4 linked regions of the Homo sapiens genome follow. The protein of the gene in region 4 interacts with the protein of the main gene of each other region in a pairwise test. Each region holds a gene or a part of one and is shown on either strand. Other genes may lie near its edges. The genes, in order: SYT6, CWF19L2, USP15 and MAD1L1.

Region 1 (7,027 bases), on a different chromosome or scaffold from region 4:
GTCTGTGCTAGGAATTGCACAGGAAGTCTCAGTTAATCAGACCCTGACTTGGAAACACCTGTACACAAACTGTCCAAACTAAAAGCAAGTTTCCCCTTTTTCTTTAAAAACTCTGAAGCCATAGGCCTGCTATTCTCCTTAATACACCCCAAGTGAACACTAATAAGCAGTTCTCCACCTTTCATTGTGTCATTTGCCTTGTAGAAATGAATGAACTTTTTCCATAAGCCAAGCTGCAGAGGTTTAGGTATGGTCAGCATGGGTTCTGGACTTAAGGTAGCAAGCAGAGGTCCAGAAGTGCTCCAGCAAATGCAGAAACCTGACAGGAGACCTCAAGCTTCCCTGTTTTTCTTAGGCTGGCAGCCGGGAGTGGTTAACTCCAGTTTACTTGTGGCCATGAAATTTATGTGATGTTTGTCCTTCTCACTGGAAGGATGGAATTCTGCAGATTTTGCCCTTTTTGAGGAAAGGTACAATGCACAATCCTTTAGAACCCAAGGAGATGATATTCTGACTAGTGTGTTTTGAGCTTTAGAGTTCTAGAAGCAGGGTCCAGTATCTAAGAGTTGTAGAGCCCTTAGATTTATAGTTCTAGAAGTTTTCTTCTCCCTCTGACTTTGATGAGAACGTCAAGTAGGGATGGTGGTTTCAGTATGTGTCATCCCTCTAAGCTCTGTACAAAAGACATGTTCTCTTCTAACTGTCTGAAGTTTATCTTCCCTGTCCACAGAGTTAGGGGTATAACATGTGGCTGCAAATAGTGAGGAGTGGCATTGAGGCATCTGGATCAAACCAGGTTTCTTTATGGTCTGTATAGGGTTGTCTGGAGTGGGGAAAGCATGCTAAGACAAAGTTCCGACTAAACTGGGTGGCACCCTTTCTATTCTTGCTTAGGAAAAGAAGCCTCTAAGGACTGAGTCACACTTAGGAACTGAAATCAGAGGAGTCTCTGAAAGTAGAAATAAACAGGGGCATCCAGATCTGGACCCTCCAAGTATAATGACACAACCTCATCCCTCCCTTCTTTCTTCTAGGAGCACTGAACTCTTTCTTGCTCCCCGAGGACCCAGGCAGACCCCTCCTCTCACTAGTTGCAGGTACAAACAGGGAGAGAAGCATAGAGGGAAAAGAATTTCTGGCTGTCTGCCCTCCACCTCCATCACTCCAGCCTTGATCCCACATTCAGAAGGGCCACATGCCCTGACCCCTCAAGCAGAAAGGTACAGTTACCATCCACCAAACTAATAATATTAATAATTGTTAAATTAGTGCCAATGTTCTGTTAGCTGTAACACTCCACATTAGTCTCCGATTTAGCTCTGAATCCCCTAATGATGGTGGAAGTGAGCGCCCAGTCATAAAGCTTGGTGCGGCCGTAATTAGCTTGGCATTGTCTCTCCTCATCACAGCTTTTTCAGGAGCATTAATTCCTTCTCTGTTTGGACTCTGCTAATTATCCCCATTGGTAGCTCAGTCTGGATCTCTGAAAGAAGCAAAGGAAGCAAAAGCCCTCTGCTCCCCTCCCCCCAGCCCTGAATTTTAATTACACCGGTTCTCCTAATAAACTTACAAGCCCTGGCAGAGCTTATTATTAATTATTAATGGGCCACGTCTGAGCCTCAGTACAGAATAGCTCTGTTCTCCCAACACACACACACACACACACACAATCTCTCTCTCTCTCTCTCTCTCAGATATTCCTCAGGTACACCTTTTCCAGAGGCCACTGGTTACTTGCCTGGTGGCTGGTGGGCAACCTGAAGTGTCAGCTTTCCAGGGAAGAAGATGGGGCAGGTGGTCACCAGGCTGGTCATAATCTGAGTCTCTGGGGCTCTGTCCAGGTTCATAGGGTCAGGCCAAAAAGTGGGAGTATCCCTCCCATCCTCTCCTGAGTACAACTAAGAAATGCCTGCCCCCACTCCAACTTCTCTGTCCAGCCTGGGACTCCACAGCTCAATCTGTAGTCCTCCCAGATACGTGATTCAAGAGCCCAGATTTGGGCATCAGCAAGTCCTAGGTTCAAATCCCAGCTCTTCTCCTTAATGCACTGTACCCTTGAACAAGTTACCTGGTTAACATCTCTATGCTTAGTTTCTTTATCTTTAAGGGTGTATACCAATTTCTTAGGGAGGCTAGAAAGGTTAAATTAGATAATGTAAAGGGCATAATGCTCACTATGTATTAATAAATAAATAAATAAATAAATAAATAAATAAATGATATTATTAGTATTTTATGAGTGGTTCTGCCCAGAATCTCTTCTCTTCCCAGGCTAAACGCTCTTCTTCCAAGCTCCTGGGCCTCTGCGTCACTTGCTCCCTGGCCTCTGGGCTGTGCTTTGTCTATGTCTCTGTCTGTGTCTGCACGAGAGCTCCTTGGCCGAGGCAGCTCCTGCTCTCCCCAGCCTGAGCACTGACCGTTTCTGAGGGTCCACCACCAATTCCAGGCCCTGAAGCCAGCCTTCTCTGGCTTTGGGGTGAGTAGGGAAAATGGTTCTTTCTTTTTGCTTCCTCTTCCCAGTTTATCTCTTCAATTACAATCTGTTAGCAAGAACGCCTGTTACTGTTACAAAATGGATTTTTCTGATGTGGGAGCCCATTAGAAAAATGGGAACAATAGCAAGCAATAAGAATTGCTGATGAATTCTAACACTATGGGTGGAGAAGAGGGGAGGGGGCACTAGGGCTGTCTTTGGAGAAAGAAGTGTCAGTGGGGGAAGATAAGAAAGCCCTGAGCTGCTATTTAATAACCCAGCATTTTCTGGAAGAGGAGGGAGACCATGGGCCATCACCCCAACCAGACAGTCTCATTTAAGGTGACAAGCAGATCCTATCCTGATGGCCTTGAAGGGGATCTCAACTTCCCAGGAGAGAAGAGGGGCCTGACGTCCCTCAGATTCTTTGTCCTCTGATCTGGAGTCTCCCTTCCCTGCCTCAAAGACTTAGCTTAGCTTTGTGTCTGTTCTGTATACACAGTCAACTGTTATCCTCCACCAAAAAACAAAACATGAAGAATAACAGCAGCTTACATTTTGGGGACATTCACTGTGTACCAGGGCCTGTGCTCAAAGTCTTAGCTTATTTAATATTCACAATGATTCTGCAAAGTAGGAATAATTCGAATCCTGACTAAATAAAAGAGAAAACTAAGATTTGGACAGGTTAAATAACTTGCTCAAGGTCACGCAATTAGAAAGCAATGAAGATGATACATGCTGTGCTGTCGGTCATTCTGGCACTGCCGCCCACCTGAGATGTCCATCCTGTGTCTGAGCACCTGTGAGTTCAGTTTCACAGCCAGGGCTAGAAGCCATGTGCCCCTGTACAAGGCTATGTCACTGGGGTGTGATCCCAAAGCCTAGTTCCATAGCTGTTTTCTCTCCCATGAGACTGCTGGAGAGTTGGCTACTATGGTTTACCAAATCAGGTGCCCATGAAATACTAGAGCTCCTCTGATGCCTGAATGAAAACATTTTACAATGAATATTGAGCAATAGGCTTCTTTTCCCCAAATTTCAAGAAATTTTTCAAGAACATAGGATGTTCTCAATTATAGGTTTTTCTTCCATGATCTTCTTCTTACTTCTTTGGAATTCATTCCTGTTCACCAGCTGGCTGGTGATGGTAACAACAAAACAACTGAGGAGGCAGCAAGCAAATGAGTATTAGCAGGAAAAGCCTGGAGATGTGTGATCTGAACCATAGTTTGTGTTACGTCTCAAGATACAGACGGACCTGGCTATGTCCAAAACCATTATATTATTTCTGCTAGTAAGATTGTTCTTGGTTTGTAAAGACAAGGTTAAAGCTATCTCTGTTGATTAATGTTCAATGGTTTTCAGGTGTTCTGCCCATTAAACAAATTTCAAAACTAAGGACTGTTTCAAATTGGGCTGGGCATAACTAATTCTAATAAAAATAGGTGATATTTATTATATTGCTTATTACATCTTAGGCACTATCCTCAACAGTTTTGGTCTCATTTAAACCTCACAATGACCCTAAAGGTAGATACTATTATTACCCCCAATTTATAGATGAGGAAACTGAGGCTGAGAAGTGTTACATAGTTTGCCAAGGTCACAGTTTAAAACTAGTAGAGGTAGACTGTTAGTGAGGCCAGTCTGACTTCAGGGCAATGCTTCCTTCTCTCTAAGCTGAAGAAGAAGTAAAGAAGAAGACAGGGAAGAAGCATCCAAATACCTAGGAGGTACTTTCTCTTTTTCAGTGCTGGGCTGAGCCCTCTCTCCCTTACTGGAGGCTTACTTCTAGCTTTTCCTGAAGTGAACGTGTGGTGTAAATTGGAAGAGCACTGGATCAGGACTCAGAAACTGGCAGAGTTGCCCATCAAAGTTCTAGCTGCCTCAAGGGGTCAAAGTTCAAACAAGATGTGAATGGGAAAAGGGTTTTGAAGGCTATTTGTGCACCTGTGATTTCCTAGGGGACATGTCCCAGTGGGTTGGCCCCAGCAAGCCCAGAGTGGGAAGGCATACAGCTTAGGTTATCTGGGCCTTTATGCAGCCCTTAGGCTGTACAGAAGCCTACAGCCCTTTCTAATCTCAATGTAACTTAAACTAGGAGATGAGGGATGTCTGAGTTCAAGGCCACATACAGTGATTTTAAATGAGCTGAATCTTCTACAGTCACCTCCTCCCTGCTGCCTGCTTCTGGTCTTACTAGCCTTGCTCACCAACCTTGCATCTCCTGTGAAGACAAACCCACTCAGTGTTTGAGACCTAATTCTCCTTGCACTGCCTGCCAGTGAGATGTCAAAAGCCCAGGCTCCTCTAGTCCTGCAATAAGATTCTTCAGGCATAGGACGGGCCTCCTGGTCTCATATAACCAGTATTGAGTGCTGGGTGCTGATTCCAAAAAACCATGCCCTCTGCCTCCCCTAATCACAGCTCTGAGGGAACAGCAGCTGGGGGTCACATGGAGAGGCAATCTAAATAGCAACCACACCAAGGAAAACCTCATTGTCCTGCCCCACCCCCTTCTCCTACCTCTCTTTTCATTTACGAATTCAATTATTTGTCAGGCTGAACATTTAAATGCACTCTATGCTCTCTAGATTCCCCCTACTCCCCTTCTCATTAAAATTCTAATTATTACCAGAACAAGTAAGATGTATGATCAAAGGAAAGCAAAGCCCTAGAAACACCTTTTGTTTTGAGGTGACTCATATTGCAGAGAATGCATCCAGAACAGCTGTAACAGAGAACAGATGTGAAGGGCTAGAGATGGCCAGATATGTAGAATAAGGACACATATAGCTGTGGTGACTTCCCTGGTGAGCCCACTAGGATAAAGACCTGAAGAAAGAGTCTCCAAATTATTTAGATCATGAACTCATAACAGGTTAAAAAAAAAAAAAAAAAAAAAAAACTTAATACCTCCAATATATGTTTTTTTGTTCCCAAGTTACATACATGTTCCACAGAGGTGATACTTCAGAACCAGACTGGCTGGGTTGTAGCCCAGTTTCACCACCCACTAGTTGTGTGACCTGGGAAATCTATTTAACCTTCTGTGCCTCAGTTTCCACATCTGCAAAATGAGGATAATAATCATACCTTTTTCATTGGAGAGGATTAAATGAGTGAATAGATATAAAGCTCTTTGAACCTTAGACATAGTAATGTTGAATAAATTGCCTAAATCTAATAACATGCTATTATTCCTATCAACCTGTATATTAAAAATTTGATTTCTTTTAAAGATTATAAATATTAAAATGGCTTGGTTTTTTTCTCTTGTGTCCACCTGCCCCGAGCTTCACCCCATTGGAGACACCACCACATTGGAGACCTTTAGTATAGAAGTTGACTTAGAATGAGCTTTCCCGGTGTCTGGCAGTCTCCAGGTGAAGGACTACCTCCAGCTCCTTTGGCCAGGGAAAGGCTCTAATGTCCCTGTGCAGGGAGCCAGGTGTTGGGAAGGCTTGGGAAGGGGGTGGTGGTAGGTGGCTCAGGACTTGAGGATTCTCTGCTATTATTACCTATTCTCGGAGGTGATAACTGATCTAGGCAAGTAACTTGCAGCAAAGGAATCAAAAGGCAGTGCTGGCTTCCCAGAGAGAGTGGCTGATATCCTCAACTCCTTCTTGGCCCCTGATGTGGGATCTCTTTCCCTGGAGCCTATGTGCTGTGGGAGTACCTGGATCCCCTTAGCAGGGGACTGGGCATTCAAGCCTTGCTCAGAACTTGGCACATGGCAAGTACTCAGTAAATGTTGCTTGACCTTAATTGAAATGAGAGCTAATTACAGCCTTCTCATACATCATTCTTTCAGTCACTCATTCATTCCATGTGCCAGTTTCTATGTGAGGCCCTGAATCAGACAAAGAGGAAAAACACGTGTCATAGTAGCCTACAGTTTAACCAGAGACAGACAGGTCAGGGCAGAGGAAAGAGTGCCAGCCTGGGTGGTGGACATCTGGACCCTAGTCCAGGTTCTGTGTCTGACCAACCTGTGACTCCAAGCAAGTCCCTTCTGTGAACCACTGCTGCCATCTTTAAAGGCACAGCCTGGCCTCACTACTTGTGGGGTCATTTCTTACCTTAAATAGTAAGATTTTTAAGGCATTTGGACAGGCTAATACAGAGGCTTCAAACTTACAAGCTTTCAGGGGCCAGACAGGGAACAGGAAGTGGAGGGTTGAGCTGGTGAGGACATATCCTTACAAAGAGAGTCACCAGTTCCCACCATGTGGGAGCCCATGTTCAATTACCAAGTCATTGGTCTTTTCCAGTGAATTCAGAAGTCTGGGGTGACGATGATGATGGAATTTCTTAACGTTTCAATCATTAAGCAAGCCAAACAAAACTCTTCTGCTAGTTTGTCCACAGTAACCTTTTTGCAAACCCTGCAAAGTATGCCCTTGGTTCAGAGCCTTCTAACTTCTCTACTCCGAGCAAGAAGAGGCCTTGGGCTCAAAGGTTCATTCCCAAATTTGGAGAGGGAAGTGGGATGGGAGGTCTGCTTAATAATTTCTCACAAAGAGGGGCATCCCTCATAGGGGCATACCC
Region 2 (7,027 bases), on a different chromosome or scaffold from region 4:
TTGATTATATTTGTCACATTAATCTACAAATAAAGCCAAAATTTTCCCAGTATTTTTCTGGTAAGAAGTCTCAGTTATATGATTTATTGATAGTGCATATATTATAGAAGGTGTGTTAAGATTTCCTGAAAGATTTTATTTATTTAGACATATTCTTGGTCTTATTTCATCAGAGATTGAAAGTTTTTTAGAATGTGGTTTATTTTTTTTCTCTCAGAATACATCCTTTTAAATTAAGATGAAATTAAATTATTTTCTTGCCTGTTCAAAATGATTGTAGGAACACTCTGTGAAGAAAAAGAAGAAAAAAGACAAGCATTCAAAAAAAGCAAAGAAAGAAAAGAAAAAAAAGAGCAAGAAACAGAAATATGAAAAAAACAATGAGTCATCTGATAGCTCATCAGTAAGTATGTACTAAAATTAATCAAAGCAGCTATTTGAGAACATTTTATTTGAATGTGTAACTTATGGGAAGTTAAAATACAAGAAAACGTAAAAAATATATTACTAGTTATGATATGAAAATATCTGGGATACATCTACTTAGAGATGTCCAGAAAATATTGGAAATGTTGATCTTGAATTTCAGAGAAAGGCTAAGAGGATAGGGATATGATTTGGGAATTATTGCTAAGCACAGCACTGGATCTTGCCCAAGGCCTGCTGTAACAATTACCTGGCTACAGCTGGTGTTCACTCAAGGCCCTGGGGCTCTGCAATCAGCAGGTGATGAAGCCAGCCAGGCCTGCGTCTTTCCCTTCAGGGTGGCAAGTTCCCCCAGGCCTGAGGGTGGGTCCAGAGGTGCCATCAGGGACCCAGGTACTGGCGTCAAAAACCTTAGACTTGTACCTGGTGTTCTATTGAACTGTGGCTGAGCTGGCATTCAACCTATGAATGGCAGTCCTTCCCACTCTTCCCTTTTCACAGGCAGAGGGGCCTCACCCTGTAGCCACCACCATAGACCCACAGGTAGTACTGGCAGGCTACCACTGATGTTCCCTTAAGGCCCAAGAACTCTTCAGTCAGCTGCCCGGCCTGGGACTCACCCTTCAGGGCAGTGGGCACCCCCTGGGCCAGGGCAGATCCAGAAATGCTATCCAAGAGCCAAGGCGTGGGGCTGGAGACCCCAAGATCCCTCTTGGTGTTCTACCACCCTGTGGCTGAGCTGGTACCTAAGGCGCAAGACAGAGCCCCCTTTACTTTTCTCAAGCAGAAGGAGGCTCTCCCCATAGCCACCACAGCTGGGAATGTGCTGAGTCTCACCTGAATCCAGCAAGTCTCAGATACACAGTGAAGGCCACAGTGTAGTACCCGATTATTGGTGCTGGTTATTCAGGGCCTAAGGGCTCTTTAGTGGTTACCAGCTATGGCTGAGCTGGTATTCAAGATGCAAGATGGAGTCCTGTATTTACTCTTCTCTCTCCTCTCCTCAAGCAGAAGGACAGGGTCTCTTTTGGAGCTGCACATTGTGCAGCCTTGGGTTGGGGGAGAGGTGGTGTAAGCACTCCCTTAGCTGCACCAGTTGCCCCCCAACCACCTGTCCATTGGCTCTGAGGCAAGTTTAGCACTAGGAGTCACCAAGGAATTCCACATCCTTGCTAGTACTTGGTATTGTCAGTCTTAGTAATTTTTAGCTATTCTACTGTGTAATGTCTCGTGTGATATTTCTCTGAAGAACAAGGATGTAGAGCATCATTTTAAGTCCCCATAGGGCATTCCATGTCTTTGTGAAATCTGATTTATTAAATATTTTCTTTTTTGTTTTTCATCATTTTTTCTTAGTGCTTCTGGTATCCTAATTTTTGCGCACCTCAAGATTGTGATTTCTCCTATGTTTATGTTATTATTAAATTTTTTTGTTTTTTGTTTGTTTTTAGAGATGGAGCCTCACTATGTTGCACAGACTGGAGTGCAGTGGCACCATCATGGCTCATTGCAGCCTCAAACTCCTGGGCTCAAGCAATCCTGCTGCCTTAGCAGCCCAATTAGCTATGACTACAGATGTAGTACAGAAAAGTTGTTTTTGTAGACATGGAGTCTTACTATATTGTCGAGGCTGGTCTCGAACTCCTGGGCTCTAGTGATCTCCTGCCTCAGCCTTCCAAAGTGCTGGGATTACGGGTGTGAGCCACCATGCTTGGCCTCCTATTTTTTTTCCCTAGAAGTTTTATAGCTTTGGCTTTTTTGCTTATTTATAATCCATTAATAATTTTTATTTATGTTGTGTAGTGTCAGTTTATTTTTTTCCCACGTGGATTTCCAGTTTTTCTAGCATCATTTGTTGAAAAGGCTGAATTTTCCCTATTGGAAGGAATTTAGGGAGATAGATATGTTAAAATATTCTTTCAATCCATTATGCACTTGGTACATCTCTCTATCCATTTATGTCTTTGATTTTTCTCACAATGTTCTGAAATTTTTAGTGTAGAGATCTTACATGTCGTTTGTTATTTTTTTTCCATTTTGTTTTCTGGAAGTGCTATCGTGAGTGGAATTTTAAATTAAATGTGTTTACAGCTAGTATGTAATTATAGAAGTGACTTGAAACATTAGGATCAGAAAAAAAAGAAAAAAGTGAAAAAAAACCTGCTTTTGATATATTCACCTTGCCTCTTATCACCATGTTAAAATTACTAATACTAGTGTTAGTAGCTTTTTTAGTAGATTTCTTAGGATTTCTAGGTAAATGGTATGTCATGTGTGAAAAAGACTTTTACTTTTTTCTTTTCAGTCTCTGTGCCTGTTTTATTTGTTAATTGTTGTTGCCTTATTTCAGTAGCTAGGACTTAAAAATAGTGTTGAATGGAAGTGGTGAGAGTGGACATGATTGCCTTTTTCCTTATCTTAGGTGCAAAGCATTCAGGTTTTTACATTTAAGCATGATGTCTGCTGTGGGACTTTCATGTATGCCTTTTCAGATTAAGGAAATGACATTTTATTTCTAGTTTTCTGAGAGTTTGTATCTTGAATGAGTATTGAATTTGGTAAGTGCTTTTTTTGCATCTATAAGTGTTAAAATTTGCCAGTGAAACGGTTTGGTCCTGGAGTTTCTTTGTGGAATGGGTTTAACGACAGAGTTAATTCCTTTAATAGTTGTGTTAAATACTTTCTGTTTATTCTTGAGTTAGTTTTAGTAATTTCGGTTTTTCTGGGAATTTATTCCATAGAAATTGTCAAATTTATTGTCATAAAGTTATTTGTAATATTTCCTTTGTTCTTTTAATGTTTACGGAATCCATAGTGATACCCCTCTTTCATCCCTGATTTTGGTAATTTCTATTTTCTGTTTGTTTCCTCTGTCAGTCTGTCTTGAGGCTTATCAGTTTTATTAATCTTTCTTTATTGCCTTTTAGTTTCCTTGAATTTTCTCTGGTTGTGTGTTTTCTATTTCATTGATTTAAACTATATTTATTCTTTGCGAATACTTTGTGTTTAATTTGCTCTTCTTTTTCTAACTTTCTAAGATGAATGTATCGCCACTGATTTGAAATCTTTTCTAACGTGTATTTATTTTATAAAATTTTCTCATAGCACTGTTGTATCTCTACGTAACTTTGATGTTATATTTTCATTGCTGTCCCATTCAAAATATTTTTTACTTTACTTTTTCTTACTCATGGATATATAAGAGTTTTTAAACTTGCAGATATTTGTGGATTTTTCTAGTTTTTTTTTGGGTTATTGACTTTGATTTTAATTATTATGTTATACTCTGTATAATTTCAGTTTTTAAAAAGTTTTTGAGACATTTTATTTTCTAGCCTATGATCTATTTTGGTGAAAATTCCATATGTATTTGAAATGAGTATGTATTCTGCCATTGTTAGGTATAGTGTTTTATAAATGTCAATTAGGGAAAGTTGACTAATAGTATTAAGTTTAGTGTTAATGATTTTCTGTTCACCTGTTCAGTCAGTTACTGAGAAAATAGTATTGAAATCTCTTAATTGTTTTGTGGATTTTACCTATTTCTGCTTTCAGTTTTGTCAGTTTTTGCCTTATGTAATTTTGAAGCTTTATTAGGTACATAGACAGCTCCTTGATGAACTGACTGTTGTTACGAAGTTTTCGTTTTTATCTTTGGTAATACTCTTGTCTGAAGTCTCTTGTATCTCATATTAATAAAGCCTCTTCAGTTTTCTTTTTTTGTGTGTTTTCATCGTCTTTTTAAAATTCTTTTAGTTTTAATGTACCTTTTTTATATATTGAAAGTGTATTTCTTGTAAGCAGTGTATAATTGGGTCTTGCTTTTTTATCTCGCCTATCAATTTCTTCTTTTTTATTTTATTGATTGATTGATTTATTGATTGATTGACAGAGTCTTGCTTTGTTGCCCAGGCTAGAGTGTAGTAGATCACTGCAGCTTCAACCCCTGGGGCTCAAGTGACTCTCCCACCTCAGCCTCTTGAAAGCTGGGACTACGGGTGTGCACTTCGACGTCCAGGATATATATATATGAGTTTTTAAATTTCCAGATATTTGTGGATTTTATTAGGTTTTTTTGGTTATTGACTTTGGATTTAATTATTATTTTATTGTACTCTGTATAATTTCAGTTGTTAAAAAGTTTTTGAGACATTTTATATTCTAGCCTATGATCTATATATATTTTGTAGAGATGTGGTTTTGCCATGTTGCCCAGCCTGGTCTCAAAGTCTTGACCTTAAGCAATCCTCCCACCTGGGACTCCCAAAGTGCTGGAATTACAAATGTGAGCCACTGCATCTGGCCTCTTCCTTTTTTTTTTTTTTCTTGAGATGGAGTCTCACACTGTCACCCAGGCTGGAGTGCAGTGCCGCAATCTTGGCTCACGTCTCTTACTTTTCAATTAGATGTTTTTTGTGCTCTCTAATCTGTTAGCTGTTTATGGCTTTTAAATTTTTTGTTAAAATTCATTAAAATTATATCAGCCAAATTTATGTGGCTACTATATTCGACAGTATATAGAAAAATTCTTTGAATAGTACTGGTTTGGATTATTTATGTTTAATGTAATAATTGATATGGATGAGTTTAAGTCTACCATGTTGTTATTCCTTTTCTATTTTTTCTTTGTTCTTTTTTCCTTTGTTCCTTCCTTTTCCTGTCTTTTGGATCGAGTGTTTTTTAGCATCCCATTTCATCTGCTGTAGGCTTATTAGGTATACCTTATTTATTTTTAATGACTGCTTTAAGTCTTATGCATATTTTAACTTACCATACTCTCAAATAATATATAATTTTACTTTTATAATTAGACTTTCACCAAAATATACTTCCATTTTCTCCTACCATATTTTTTGCTATTGTTGTCATATATTTTACTTCTACATATGTTATAAACCCACATTGTTTATAATTTTTAATGTCATACATTCTTTTTATTTATACTTTAGTCAGTTATCTTTTAAATAAGTTACACATATGAAGAAAGTCTTTTATATTTACCCACAGATTTATCATCTCTGATATTCTTTATTATTTTATGTAGGTCTGAATTTCTGTCTAATACCATTTTCCTTTTGTCTGTAGAACTTTCATTAACATGTATTATAATATGGATTTGCAGACATTGTATTCTCTCAGCTTTTGTTTGAAAATTTCTTTTATTTCATCTTCATTCTTTTTTTCTTTTACCACAAACTCAGAAGTTCCTACTAGCAATCTTCATTTTTCAGATACTTGGCTAGATAAAGAATTTTAAGTTTATAGTGTTTTCTTTTTTTTTTTTTTTTTGCACTGTAAAATGTCATCCCATTGTCTTCTGGTTTGCATTGTACATATTGAGAACTCTGTAGTCATTGTAATATTTTTTCTCTGTATGTAGTGTGCCTTTTTATTCTGGATGCTTTTAGGGCTTTTTTTTTCATCATTATTTTTCAGTGAATCAATTGTGATATGTCTTGGTATTGATTTCTTTGTGTTTATTCTACTGTCTTAGTTCATTTGGGCTGCTATACCAAAACTAACTGGGTGGATTATAAATGACAGAAACTTATTTCTCACAGTTTGGGAGGCTAGAAAGTCTAAGATCGAGGCGCTGGTAGACTTTGTGTCTGATGAGGGTTCAGTTCCTCAGAGATGGCTGTCTTCTCACTCTAACCTCATATGGCAGAAGGGAGTGCTCTTGGGCTATGTTTTATAAGGGCACTAATCCCATTCCCAGTCATCTCCCAAAGGCCTCAGCCCCTATTATCATTGTCTTGGGAGTCAGGATCTCAACATAAGAATTTGGTGGGGGACACAAACATTCAGAGTGTAGCATCTGCCTTAGGTTCATTGTGCTGCTTTGATTTGTGAGTTTACAGTTTCCATCAAATATGAAACTTTCAGGCTTTTTTCGAAGTATTTTTTTTTTCTGTTCCCTCTCATTTTGGTAGTCTCCTTAAAATAATGTCTCACAGGTTGATGAGCCTGTGTTCACTTACTTTCTAGCCTTTTTCCTTTCTATGCCTTGGGTTGGGTATATTTTATTGCTATGTCGTGAGCTTCAGGTTTACTGGCCTTTTTTTTTTTTTTTTTTTTTTTTTGTGACGGAGTCTCGCTCTGTTGCCAGGCGGGAGTGCAGTGGCGTGATCTCAGCTCACTGCAACCTCCGCCTCCTGGGTTGAAGTGATTCTCGTCCCTCAGCCTCCTGAGTAGTTGGGATTACAGGTGCTCATCACCACGTCCAGCTAATTGTTTGTATTTTTAGTGGAGATGGGGTTTCACCATGTTGGCCAGGATGGTCTGGATCTCCTGACCTCGTGATCTGCCTGCCTCAGCCTCCCAAAGTGCTGGGATTACAGGTGTGAGCCACTGCGCCTGGCCGACTGGCCTTTTCTTTTGCTGTGTCTAGCTTACTGTTATCCCTATCCAGTGACATTTTCATTTCAGGTACTGTATTTTTTTTTTATCATTAGATGTTTCGTTTGGATCTTTCTAATGTTTTTCAGTTTATCTCCTCATTATCTTTACATTTTCCCTTCCTTGAACATATTTATGATAGCTGTGTTAAAGTCTTGGTTTGCTGTTTCATTTTCTCTTGTTTTTTCCTGTTCTGTTTCAA
Region 3 (7,027 bases), on a different chromosome or scaffold from region 4:
ACTGTCAACTTACAGTGTCCTCCTCCCATCCCTCCATAGTGGTTGGAAACAGCAATCAGATTATAGCGGCAAGGACCTGCATTTGGATTAATTAAGAATTCCGACATATCCAAGTCACTGTTTAAAAAAGAAACCAAGTTAATTTTTATGTTGTCCCTAAATGCAATGAATTCTATTCCCTTCTGCCATTGTTGTTTGACATACATATATATATCTATATCTATCCATCTATATATATCTATCTATATATATATATATCTCACTAAGGAAATTATCATGAGTCAAATAACTTACAAAACAAATCATACATGTACCTCTGAGATATTAATGTTTTGGCAAACATTTGTTTATGGGTTGAAAATTTTAAAATGCTTCATTGAGTATACTGAAGAGATATCTGCACTCCCCATGTTTGTCGCAGCAATGGTCACAACAGCTAACATTTGGAAACAACCAAATCTTGTTGATTTGACGAAACTATGTGTTGCAATGTTGATGGAACTAAGTGTCTATCAACAGATAAATGGCTAAAGAAAATCTGGTACATATACACAATGAAGTACTATTCAGCTATAAAAAGGAATGAGATCCTGCCATTTCCAACAACATGGATGGAACTGGAGATTATGTTAAATCAAATAAGCCAGGCACAGAAAGACAAACATCCCATGTTCTCATTTGTGGGATCTAAAAATAAAAAAAAATTGAGCTCATAGACAGACAGAGTAGAAGGATGATTACTAGAGGATGACAAGTGTGGTGGGAAGGTAGGGGAGATGTAAGGTGGGGATGGTTAACGGGTTAAAAAAAAAAACGAATGAATAAAACATACTATTTGATCACACAACAGGGTGACTATAGTCAATAATAACTTAATTATACATTTAAAAATAACTAAGAGTGTGACTGGATTATAACACAAACGATAAACGCTTGAGAGGATGGATACCCCATTCTCCATAATGTGACTATTTCACACTCCATCAAAACATCTCATGTACCCCACAAATATATACACCTACTATGTACCCACAAAAATAAAAAAATAAAATAAAATAAAAATGTGGAATGTTGTCATTCAGATAAACGTTTTCATGCTAACACATTTAACTCTCAGTATACCAGGAAAAACAGTCATCACTATTGACCATCTGGGTCCAGTAGATCTTTATTTTACAGTCAATTTTAGAAAGTAATTTATGGGCAGGGTCAGAGATTAAAAAAGAGGAAGTGATTTATATGAAGAAAAATACAGGAATAGTGAAAACTTCCTTAGAAGTTTTAAAAAATATTAATATATCAAACCTTAATTTTTATTCTACATTTGCTGTCTTTGATGACCTATATACCCGAAATGGGCAACATCCTTTGAATGTAACTGACTAATCAAAATCTATCATTCAAGAACCTGGAAAACGACTTCTTGTAAATAGCTTATTATTATTTCTGGTTGTTCTTCTTGTATTTGCATCATTAAAAAGCAATAATGATTCTAAATTTTAAATACATCTCTGATAGATTCTAGTTTGTCATTACTTCTGATTCTTTTTTTTTTTTTTTGAGAGGGAGTCTCGCTCTGTCGCCAGGCAGCCTGGAGTGCAGTGGCGCGATCTCAGCTCACTGAAATCTCCGCCTCCTGGGTTCAAGCGATTCCCCTGCCTTAGCCTCCCGAGTAGCTGGGACTACAGGCGCGCACAACCATGCCCGGCTAATGTTTTTGAATTTTGGTAGAGATGGGGTTTCACCACGTTGGCTAGGATAGTCTTGCTCTCCTGACCTTGTGATCCACCCACCTCGGCCTCCCAAAGTGCTGGGATTACAGGCGTGAGCCACTGTGCCCAGCCCTGATTCTTTTTCTTATACTTACATTGCCAAATGCTATATTCTTGAAAACTTATGGCTCACTATTTTGTTAAAGAGAAAATGATCTTTTTTTCACTCAATAATTACAAATAATTTTAAATTTTAAATTTATAGCCACCAATTAGAATGAGTAATCCAGTGAATATTTTGTTTTATGTAATCTATTTCCTTCTAGTTACCTTTATAGATACACCTGCCTTTAGCAATTGTCTACTTACTAACTGTATCAAGTACATTTTGGTGTACAAATATCACAGGATATGAAATAATACCGCTGAAAGTTCTTTTTGCAAAATGGGATAGTACCAAGTACTTGTACAAAATATTGTGTGATGAAGTCCTTCTGCTGAATAACTAAGTGACGGGGAATACAATGTTCCCTTTTTGTCATTCTGAATTCTCAACTGTTAAAAGCAGGGGAAGAAAAAAAGAGAGATAAAGTGTGAAGATGTATACAGACTTCTTTGTATCTTTTTACAGACAAGATCAGGGTACGTTCAAGGTGGTATGGCCATAGATATATCTTTTTACAAATATGATGTCATATAATGGCAATAGGAAAACTGAAGGATAATGCAATAGGGATGATTTATTTCACTACTGTGTTATCCTTCTAAGCAATTCCATTGTTGTTTTATTTTAGTCTTTTTGAAAACAGCATATTTAGGGCTGGGCACAGTGGCTCATGCCTGTAATCCCAGCACTTTGGGAGGCCAAGGCGGGTGGATCACTTGAGGTCAGGAGTTCGAGACCAGCCTGGTCAATATGGTGAAACCTCGTCTGTACTAAAAATTAGCCGGGCATGATGGCGGGTGGCTATAATCCCAGTTACTTGGAAGGCTGAGGCAGGAGAATCACCTGAATCCAGGAGGTGGAGGTTGCAGTGAGCCGAGATTGCACCATTGCACTCCAGCCTGGGCAACAGAGTGAGACCCTGTCTCAAAAAACAAACAAAAGAAACACCAAAAAACCCCAACATATTTAGGAGTAAGTGATGAGTAATGATGAAGTAATTCCTAGGATAAACAAAATCACTAAGTACCATAAAGTATCTTAGATTTATAAATGAGACCAATTAACCCATAGGTAATATAACACAGAAGGATTTTTATTGTTTTTATTTTTTTAAAGTATATTTTCTCTTTGATCTTTGGAAAATCTCTAAGAAAAAATAAAAATTTTGAAACACTGATCCTTATAAACTGTTAGAACTACTCAAAAACAAACTTGAAAGCTGAAATTGGGTCCAATGGCACCTGATGTTTACTAAAGGATAATAACAAAAAGCATCAAATAAGTTTGAAAGAAGAGTTGCCCAATGCTTATAAAGTACAATTAAAGCTTACTTGATAGGAAAATCAACTAAGGTATCCAACTTGTCTCTCATGTATCGACTGTAAGAAAATCGCTTGAGATGTACTACAAGTACTGGAGGCAGGGACCATAAATCCAATTTCTTTGTGGCTTGCTGATGTTCTTTACAATTCGGACAATACCTAAGAATAAACAGAAGTATTTAACACTTGATAGAGGTACAAACAACCCCCATTAATGAAAATAATAAACAAAAATGTTTGGAAAGTTCTACATTTATTCAGTGGGCAATTATAGTATGCCTAATATGTACCAGGTTGAAAGCAACTCTTATTATTTTTATTTTCAAGACATTTTCCAAATAGGTTAAACCATTACAAATTAATATACAAATAAATACTTAAAGACATAATGAGGGCTAGATTATTTCTCTTTTAGTATGCAAAAAAGACATAGGTCACAAATCTGTGCTGGAAGACAGGTATTAGAAAATCTCAAATCTGGGCTCTAATGGAATAACACCACAAAATATATCACTACATTTTTCCTAAAAAGCTTCTCTCAAAATGATTACATAGCTAAAATTTCTTGGAAAAAAGGTAACTAAAATGAATTAATAGTATAATGGCTATTATGAAAAACACAGTAATAAAATTAAGGCAACACTGTAATCGTATTTTTTAAGACATTCCCATCCCTCTTAATAGGCTACAACTTATATAAAGAATCCTTTACTATTTAAAACATCAAAGAGAATTTAGTAATTACTTTTTCAACTTGATGTGGCACATATCTCAGAATAAATCCTTAAAGAAAACAAAAACAATTATTTAATTTTGTCTCTTACCAGGGATCTTCAGCACCTAGCTTTTCTTTTGTTGTAAAAAGTTCAATGCAATCTTTTAATTTCACAAAGGGTTTTTTAGGAGGTTTATACTCCACACTTTCATGTTTTTCAAAGTCCTAAAGAGAAGTATTTCTTGAGTTAAGAGAACAAATGAAACAAAACTCATTTTAGTGATACCATCTTACTATGAATAATAATGAAAACTCCTAAACTTTCTCAAAAGAATCATAAAGCTTATTTCAGTTGAGATTTATATACTTCTAAATAATTCCTGTACACTTCTATATGGATGACCAAAACACGTTCAAAATGAACTCTGAACCTTTAAAAAAAAAAGGTATTTTTGCAAAGACTTTTTTTTCTAGTTCATGACCAATTTTTTACTGGCAAAATAAACATATTTGGTGGAAGCAAAGAGTGTAACACAACAGTATGATTATCTCTGGTAATCACATAAAGTAAATCAAGGAAAGGTAAATAAGTGAGTGAGTGATGACTTACCTCAGCAGCATTTTCATCAAAATATCTTTTTTTCAAATCAGGATCCCAATCCAAAGCAAGAAAAGATCTTTCTAAGGTGGAAAACATATTTTTTCTTTAAAATTTAATATGTCTTAGTATTAAAGTATATTTTAATGTTAGGATATACACCAGAATAAACAAACAGCAATCTTTTCTACTTGTACTGGTGATTAGGGCAAACAGCAGTTTCCAAGCCATTGAAATAATTTAAGAGTTTAAAAAAAGATAGAAAACTGAAGCATGAGTTCAATCTCCATTTATGAAACACAAACACACATTTTAGTCTACTTAGATATTAAGTCCTTTCATGTAAAATTTGAGATAGAAAAGTAAATGGTATATTTCTTGACAGAGCTGAATTTCATGGTTTTCACCTAAAAAAAAAATAACATGCTCGGCTTGTTTAATGTTCAAGCCATTTTTCACAAATACTTACCATCTAGCCTAAGCTGCCTATCATCAAATCTTATATGCCTGGTATCATCTTTGATGTAGTTGATATCAGTATTGCCTAAGTTGTTGAACTGGAATGTAAACAATCGTTTTTTGTGTCCCGTGAGTTGACCTTTGCAAGTATCCTCAGTACATAATCCATTTTCAGAATCATTATCTCCTCCAACTGAATCTTCAGACTGACTGTTTTCATTCTCTGAGGGAAGTTCTTGATCCTGGCTGGATTCATCATCTGGCTCATCTGTTTCCATTTCACCTAATTTTAGATATTAGAGAGCTTTAAATAAACCCAATGCTATATTTTTAAATTATTAATATTATTAATCCTAGGTTTCCAGGTATTTTTTAGTTCTTTAATTCCCATTTTCTTAACTTTTTCTCTGAGGCAATTATCTAAGTGAAACATTTGTACAATTTAACAGAAAAGTCTTACTTGGTGAGCCTTCTTCATGTATGCCATTTGGGCCATTCCCATTAATATTTTGGTCCTTACAGCAGTGTAGGGATCCTTCAGTTTCTTCAGTTTCAGTAGATATTTTGACATATCGGCTTAAGTAAAATCAAAAATCAAACAAGTTCAGTACTACAAAGATAAAAACTTTTAAAAAGTTTTCCTTCTATCAGTAAAACAAAACTTTTTAATGCAGTAACAGTGGTCACTTAGTAGATTCAAAGATAAATTCAAACTTTTAGTACCATAAGTATAACTGACTAGTAATTTGTTTTGCTCATCTTTATAAAAATAATTAATATGTTACCTTTTAGGTTAAATGTTAAATGTTTGTTGCAAATAATTTCTCAACTTACCCTATTTAGATGGTATATATTGTTGCTAAAAACACTTATATTTGTATAATGTGATCTTTATATATGGGTTATGAAACTATAATAATTAGATATGCAAGAAAGAATACTAAATATACCAGCTTTCAAGGATAAAAGGGATCAAATGACATTCTTGATAACTTCATAATTCAAATCAAGGGATTTATTCAGGAAGGCAAAAAATAGGCTGCCTTACAATACTATTAATCATGAACTGGTAATGTATATAAAGAAATGAAGCATTTGACATTTGTTATTTCACAGTGCAAACATATGGCATTTGACATTTGTTATGATTTCACAGAATGAACATGTAACACATAATTATTATAACATAAATTCCTATGTCCTTCTAACTGTAAACTTTTGGTTTAAAACTGCTACAGACTTCGTGCTTCCTGGGTTTGAAATTACCTCCATAATATGTTTTACATGAATAAGAAAGTGGATTAGGACTATAATCTGACTATGAACAAAATTGAGATAATACAGACTTGAATAATTATATTCCAATAGTACCTTATGTGTTTATTTTTATTAGCTATTTTATATTTTATTCCCATATTTATTTTGTCAATGTAGAATTGTCTGGCACTTACCACATTCTCAAGAGCAGGAGATTATAAAGTTTGTCTTCAGTATTGTTTCGTGGTACAGCCATAAGAAAGGGCTGACCAAAAAGTGAAGAACCAGTATGGTGGGTATAACTCGAGTGTCTGAATTTTTCTCTTAGGCAAACAGGAATAATCACGTGCTCTGTATCTTCTGTCCTATTGATGTTAATTTCAAACCTACAAGGACAAAACTGACCATAAACTCTCAAAATTTTATGTTACTTCTATTAATTTTTTTTCAAGTAATATTTTGCACAATGAGTTTTATACTTACACATAAATATCATCCCGTTCCATAATACTACTAAGGTTTTCATCCATAGCGAATATTCTGTGAAATCTATGATTGTATATATCAGTAACTATCATCTAAAAGGAAACGAATTTCTATTAAGCTGGTTTTACAGCACTGAGAAACTAAATACCAACTTATATACTTCAACCCCAGAAACATCTTACCTTATCTGCAGGTATTCCTGACAAAGCAGACAATGCTGTACAAAGATCTAATATGTTTCCAATTTTGGGGACAACCACTTTGTACTAAAAAACAAAAAAAATTGTAATGAATTTATTATTTTGGAAAAAA
Region 4 (7,027 bases):
GTGGGAGTCTGCTCTGGGGAGACCCTGGGCCCGGGCAGGACCTCTTCCAGTCTTCTGTAGTTGAGGTGGGTCGGTATTAGCAGAGCCTAGAGACAGCTATTCGTCTCCCAGGTCTCACTATGGGCACTCCTCATTTTGGGGTCGTAGCTGGAGGCTAGTTGGGGCCCTGAGCCATCCTGGCTTAAAGGCCTGCCTTGTTAGCGCCCTGAGTGGGCCTGGCGCTCAGCATTGCGTTCACACAAGTGCACTCACAGACCCTGGTGACAGGATCGGAAAGCCAGTTCATTCATCTAATTGAGGACAGAACCCAAACTGCCTGGGGGAGTGAGCACCAGGACTGTCGGGAAGGCTGTGTTGGAAACACAGTGCTGAGAGTGCCTGGGCAGCCCAGAGACAAAGCCACAGCAGTGAGCAGAAGGACTGGGTGTTTTGTGGTCTCAGACTGTGGAGGGCCATTTACAGATTTTGGGGTGATTTTTACAGTTTTCTTCTATAAAATAGTTGTATTTTGTTTCATTACAAGTTCTTGGGGTTTCTCACTGTAGACACAACTGCAGAGGATTCAGGCCTCCTGAAGGACTTCAGGCTCCAAAGAGTGATGAGCCCAGTCCCAGTTGGGGCTGCGATAATGGGGCCCCCAAGTTGTAGGGAGTGGTGGGGAGTGGAGTGCTGGCTAGTAGTGTCTCCAGCCTTGCCTGGGCCCTGTGGCTGCGCAGGCTCCTCTAGGCTCCTCTGCCTGGACCCTCTTTCCCAGTCCCTGCTGCGGTCCCCAGAGCCGTTCTGTAGTTCTGTCCGCATTAGAGGAGGCTCTGGCTTCCTGCGCTCTCAGAGCCCAGATGAGGCCCTGCTGCATTTGGTTAAACTGTGTGTGCGTGTGCATTTGTTTTGTTGCATAATTGAATTAATGTGTGTTTATTAGAATGCTAGCTTGTGGCCAGATGTGGTGGCTCAGGCCTGTAATCCCAGCACTTTGGGAGGCTGAGGTGGGCGGATCATGAGGTCAGGAGATCAAGATCATCCTGGCTAACACGGTGAAACCCTGTCTCTACTAAAAATACAAAAAATTAGCTGGGCGTGGCACCTGTAGTCCCAGCTACTCGGGAGGCTGGAGCAGGAGAATGGTGTGAACCCGGGAGTCAGAGCTTGCAGTGAGCTGAGATTGCGCCACCGCACTCCAGCCTGGGTGACAGAGTGAGACCCTGTCTCAAAAAAAAAAAAAGAATGCTAGTTGCTAGCTTGCTCACTGCCCTTTCTTGATGAGGACTGTTTTTTATTCTGAGATTAGGTCATATATATATATATGTGTGTGTGTATATATATAATATTTATGTAAATGTTCTTTTGTGAAATTATGAAGGTAATAGATGGTAGTTGTTTTTTATCACTGACAAAATGAGAAGTGGCCAACTCTGAGCTGGTTGCAGTGGCTCATGCCTATAACCCCAGCACTTTGGGAGGCTGAGGTGGCTGGATCACTTGAGGTCAGGAATTTGAGACCAGCCTGACCAACATGGTAAGACCTCATCTCTACTAAAAATACAAAAATTAGGCGGGTGTGGGCACCTGTAATCCCACCTACTCGGGAGGCTGAGGCAGGAGAATCGCTTGAACCTGGGAGGCGGAGGTTGCAGTGAGCCATCGCGCCACTGCACTCCAGCCCGGGTGACAGAGTTGGCAACTCTGGTCTGAAATGCTGTGATTTTAGTGTTGCGAATGTCTGGGACCTCTTGGCCTGTCTGTCAAAGCTGTGGGATTCTAGAGTCTGTCTTGGGGCTCGGAGGCCCCCAGTGCTCACTGGTAAAGGCCTCTCGGTGAGGGGATCAGTGATGGAGTGCGGTAGTCAGAGCAAGGTGGTGAGCGGAGTGATGGCGGCAAGACCAGCCTTGGTCCCTGGCCCCTGTCACATCCCATTCCTGGACTTCGTCGTGGTTCTCTCTCTCCTGCTGAGCCCCCGGCGTGGCAGGGAGGGCCTGGAGAACATGGCAGGCCGGGGGAATGTGTGCTGTCTGGTTTCTCACACATCGTGTTGATTTAACGTAAGGGTAAACTTTCAGGGTTCCTTTCTTTCCGTTGTAGTCAGCTCCAGGCAGAGGTGGCACACGGATCAGGTGTGTCTGGGACTCCTGGTCCCTGCCGGTCGTGCCCCCTGCAGGCGGGGTGCCCACCCTTCTCGAGAGGCTCAGGCTTGACTGCAGACACAGAAGTGAGACCAGGAAGGCTGCTGAGTTTGAAGGGCAGTCTTAGGAACGCCCAAACAGCAGCAGCTGAGAATCGAGACACAGTAACATAGGAGTAAAGGAAGTGTGGGCTTGGGCCACCAGAGAACACAGGTGGGAGGACAGAGAAACTTCCCTCCCCTGTCCCAGGCTTTCCTGGCCTTGGCACGCTTGGCATTTGGGCTGGGTAATTCTTTTTTCTCAGGACTTTCTTGTGCATTGTGGGCTGTTTAACAACTTCCCTGGCCTCTACCCCCTGGACGCCAGCCAGCAGCAGACACATGTGACCACCCCCCTGTGACAATCAGGTGTCTCCAGACAGGGCCAGATGTTCCCAGGGGCAAAACTGGACCCCACTGGGAACCACCACTCTACTCTGGTGCTTCTCAACCTTTCATGTGCATGTGAACGCCCTGAGAATGTGTCTAAAAAGAAGTTTCTTTTTTTCTTTTGGAGATAGGGTCTTACTCTGTCATCCAGGCTGGAGTGCAGTGGTACAATGTTGGCTCACTGCAGCCTCCGTCTCCTGGGTTCAAGTGATTCTCCCTCCTCAGCCTCCCGAGTAGCTGAGATTACAGGTGCGTTACCACCACACTCGGCTAATTTTCATAGTTTTGAGTAGAGACAGGGTTTCACCATGTTGGCCAGGCTGGTCTCAAACTCCTGACCTCAAGTTATGTACCCACCTTGGCCCCCCGAACTGCTGGGATTACAGACGTGAGCCACCACGCCTGGCCTAGATTCTTTTGTTTTTTTTTTTTTGAGACGAACTCTTGCCCTGTCATCCAGGCTGGAATGCAGTGGTGTGATCTTGGCTCACTGCAACCTTCGCCTCCTGGGTTCAAGCGATTCTCCTGCCTCAGCCTGAGTAGCTGGGGTTACAGGTGCGTACCACCACGACCAGCTAATTTTTGTATTTTTAGTAGAGACGGGGTTTCCCCATGTTGGCCAGGCTGGTCTTGAACTCCTGGCCTCAAGTGATCCACCCGCCTTGGCCTCTCAAAGTACTGGGATTACAGGTGTGAGCCACCACACCCAACCTAAAGAGAAGATTCTGACTGAGTAGGTCTGGGGTGTAGTCTGCGACTCTGCATTTGTTAAGTGCCGGGAGATGCTGCACTGCAAGGCTCTGGGCCACGTGAAGAGTCAGTGACTCTGCCTTTTCCTCCAGCTGAGCAGGTCGTACCCAAAGGCCGGCTCTGGAACTATTTGGCAAGTCTTCTGGGGCTCTTTGAGGCTCAGCTAACCTGTAATCACTAGCCCTGTGTGGTAGGCAGACTTCTGAGAGGGCCCCCAGGAGCTCAGCTCACCTGTAATCACTAGTCCTGTGTGGCAGGCAGACTTCTGAGAGGGCCCCCAGAGGCTCAGCTCACCTGTAATCACTAACCCTGTGTGGTAGGCAGGCTTCTGAGAGGGCCCCCAGATTCCAGGCTCCTTGTGCACACTCACCTTCCTACTGCCTCCCAGGTTTCAGTCCAATACTGAGTAGGTTTCATTGCTGTGGGATTGTGCAGATGTAATTAAGGTCTAAGATCTGTTGACCTTGAGATAGGGAGATTACGTGGGTGGGCTTGATCCACTCCCTGGTGGGCTTGATGTACTCACCTGAGCCCTTTAAGTCTGAGTCCAGACGTCCGAGGCCGAGCAGTCAAGAGACATAGCAGGAGAGGGATTTGATGAGGGAGATTGGACGTGGTTGACTTTGGAGATGGAGAGGGCCGTGTGGCAAGGGATGTGGGCAGCACCTAGGAGTTGATGGCTGTACTGGGCTGGCAGCCAGTCGGGAAGGAGACCTCATTCTCCATCTCTGAGCTCCACGTGAGAACATGTCCTGGCCGACTGCATTGATTTTTAGTCTGGGAGACCCTGGTCAGAGAATGCAGCCACCTACGTCTGGACTTCCGACCCACGGAGCCGTTGGCTGGTAAATAAATGGGTGGCATTCGAGGCCGTTGCCTTCACTAATATGCTTAATGTCATCTCAAAAGACGTCTTCCTCTTCCCAGGCTTTTTCACCTTCCCGTTTCCTGCCCCTCCCCTGTTCCCCAGCCTGGAGCCCAGTGGCTGGGCCACATCAAGACTTAGCACGGGACCTGCGGGAATGGGTCCTCAGGGAGTGTGTCTGCTGCACTGAGTCACTCACCTGGTTTGATGCCGTCACTGAGGATTCTGTTTTTCTTTGGGTGCGACCTGCTCAGCTGGAGGAAAGAGCAGAGCAGATCCGTTCGAAGTCCCACCTCATCCAGGTGGAGCGGGAGAAAATGCAGATGGAGCTGAGTCACAAGAGGGCTCGAGTGGAGCTGGAGAGAGCAGCCAGCACCAGTGCCAGGAACTACGAGGTGGGTTCAGGCGGGGCGAGGGTCGGCCCAGACAGCCCCAGGAAGCAAGGGGGCTGTGCACGGTACCTGCCAGGTTATAAGAAATCACATCCTAGTCCCTGGGAGCAAGGGGGCTGTGCATGGTACCTGCCAGGTCTTAAGAAATCAGATCCCAGTCCCTGGGAGCAAGGGGGCTGTGCACGGTACCTGCCAGGCCGTAGGAAATGAGAACCCAGCTGGCTGGAAGCCTGACACGCCCTGTGTCATGGTTGCCAGGACATTCCTTCTGAGGCCACTCATGCTGTGGGGCAGGTATCAGTTATGCTTGATGTCCTAGAGGAGGGTGGCATGAAATGGGAACACTTGCTGTGTCTGTTCATTGAGGCTGCGGTGCTGGCACAGATTCTTTTGCTGGGTCTCCTGGTTTCCTCTTCCCTCTGGAAGAATTGGAATGCAGGTCTGGCAGAAATGCCAAGTGGTGTAGGAGTGACAGGCTTAGGAGGTCATGGGGTGGATCAGGGTCTCGGGTCCATGCTGGGTCTTGGGGTTGGAGGGCCCTAGCAAAGGGTGCCGGTCTCAATGGCGGCTCTGTGTTGCTCCTGGCTCCCCAGGGCAGCAGGGAAAACACCCTGTCCTTGGGGAGGGAATTAGGTTTCCACTGAGTGCGCGGATCCCCTCTGCTCTGATTAACAGCACTTTGCCAGGGTTTCAGTCAGTGCTGATCAGTTGTGGAAATGCTGCCAAGGTTCAGGCAGAGTATTGGGCGGAAAGTCTCCCTGGCCTCCGTGCCCTCTCTTGGCGGGTGGATGTCCAGCCCCGCCCTGACATCATGCGGTGTATTCACACACTCTCCTGGGCCCTAGAAAAATAGCTCACGTCTTCCGGGGTGTGATGCTGGTTGGATTGCTTGCCCCTGGCCTGCAGATCCTGACTGCGGTGTGCGTTGTGTGGGCTCAGTGAGACTGAGGCACCGCTGGGGTGGGGGCCACTGCCTCAGGGTTGGCTCCGTTGCTGCTTTGAGAGCTGTTTTCCCTGAGAGGTGGGGCGTTTGCTCATGGCCTGGGTGGGTCCTAGGAGGGACAGTACTGGAGGAATTGGTGGGAAGGGGAGGGAGAGTCCACAGGAGTCTCCCTAACTACTGAGATTCCCTTGTTAGGGGTGGAGAGGAGCCACCAGGTCATTGGTCTGGAGGCAGCATGCTGATGGTATGGCTGTGGCTGTCAGGCAGGAGGGACAGTGTGCAGCTGTTGGAGTTCCTCTAGGCCGAGAGTCCCTGAGGGCAGGGCCCACCCGACTCTGCCCAGGATCTCCATTGTGTGGCACAGCTTATGGCATTTTATGGGTGCTCACAAATGTTGGATTGAGGGAGGGGTCATTGTAGGGTCTCCGGGAACCCTGTCTTGGGGAAATCCAAGGATGCAGGTGACTGGGCTTACACCTGGGGCTCCCTGCTGAGCTCCAGCCACCTTCTAACAGGACTGTCCTTCCTTGCCCGCAGACACAGCTGCATGGGACCCCAGGAACAGTCAGAACCAGTAGTTTTCCAATTGTTCCTTGGAGTTCCACCTGGAAATACCTATTAGGGGCGAGACTTAAGTGTCTGAAGTCCAAAGACCTGCTGGCTGCCCTGTCTGCGCTGGGACTGGCAGTTCCAGGCCCGGTGCCGCATCTGGCTGTGATGGTGCTGAGCGGAGCCCCGTGCCAACCCCAGTTCTTGTCCTGCATCACAGAAGGGTCTCTTGGTTGTTGTGAGGCAGCCCTTGCAGCTCACAAGGGCTGGAGTCCCTCCGAGGTGCGCGGGTCAGCCTCTCTCAGAAGGCGGCCACCTCTGTCACAGCTCTCCTGGGTTTTGGGCTGGAGTACCCTGGATGAGGACAGCACAAGCTCGTACTCCACCCGGGGCTCCGGGAGTGCTTGGTGCTTCCCGAGGAAGGCAGGGTGAGAGGGTCCCGGAGTGCCGGGCTCCACCAGGACTCACCGCCTTCACCTCCTGGGACGCCGGTACCTGGCAGTGAACTCTGGAGGGCCTGCGGGTCATTAGAGTCAGGAGGTCTGAGCGTGGTGCTTGGTCATGTCCCATCCCAACCAGTGAGAGCCACGCGGCCTCCCTAAGGCCAGTCGTGGGGGGTGGGTCTGGAGGTTTGTGGTTTGTGTGAGAGGGGGTGCATGTGTGGCAGATTTGAGCCCAGTGTAAACTGCTTCTGCCCACAGCCTCCTGTCCACGCTGCCTGTCTCTGCCCCTGTTGTCTGCTCGCTGGGGGAGTGCCAGCTCCTTTCAGTGCCGGACAGAGCGTAATTAGACAGGATTTGCTGGTGCTATGAAAGCTCAGCTTCTCCCCAAGGTCAATGCTGAATTTTAGATTTCCCATGCCCCCTCTCCCTGCAGAGGCAACTGCTGAGCAGACGGTGTGATAAATGTGTGTGTGATCTGTGCCAAGTGCCCTTCCTGGGAGCCCTGACCTCGCACAGTGCTCACCGTCATGGTGCCACAGC

The links.
Region 1: the proteins of MAD1L1 (region 4) and SYT6 interact in binary tests that used the Homo sapiens proteins (3 or more experiments, as listed by UniProt).
Region 2: the proteins of MAD1L1 (region 4) and CWF19L2 interact in binary tests that used the Homo sapiens proteins (3 or more experiments, as listed by UniProt).
Region 3: the proteins of MAD1L1 (region 4) and USP15 interact in binary tests that used the Homo sapiens proteins (3 or more experiments, as listed by UniProt).

The regions. Positions count from the first base shown.
Region 1 is NC_000001.11:114,143,860-114,150,886, reverse strand, and holds part of SYT6 (synaptotagmin-6), read left to right. Parts: intron 1-7,027.
Region 2 is NC_000011.10:107,447,826-107,454,852, reverse strand, and holds part of CWF19L2 (CWF19-like protein 2), read left to right. Parts: intron 1-280; coding exon 281-403; intron 404-7,027.
Region 3 is NC_000012.12:62,389,385-62,396,411, reverse strand, and holds part of USP15 (ubiquitin carboxyl-terminal hydrolase 15), read right to left. Parts: intron 6,982-7,027; coding exon 6,898-6,981; intron 6,808-6,897; coding exon 6,713-6,807; intron 6,630-6,712; exon of another isoform or gene 6,616-6,629; coding exon 6,424-6,615; intron 5,549-6,423; coding exon 5,433-5,548; intron 5,256-5,432; coding exon 4,983-5,255; intron 4,597-4,982; coding exon 4,526-4,596; intron 4,157-4,525; exon of another isoform or gene 4,141-4,156; coding exon 4,025-4,140; intron 3,360-4,024; coding exon 3,210-3,359; intron 118-3,209; coding exon 14-117; intron 1-13. UniProt on the Homo sapiens protein: Hydrolase that removes conjugated ubiquitin from target proteins and regulates various pathways such as the TGF-beta receptor signaling, NF-kappa-B and RNF41/NRDP1-PRKN pathways.
Region 4 is NC_000007.14:2,222,938-2,229,964, reverse strand, and holds part of MAD1L1 (mitotic spindle assembly checkpoint protein MAD1), read left to right. Parts: intron 1-4,414; coding exon 4,415-4,555; intron 4,556-7,027. UniProt on the Homo sapiens protein: Component of the spindle-assembly checkpoint that prevents the onset of anaphase until all chromosomes are properly aligned at the metaphase plate.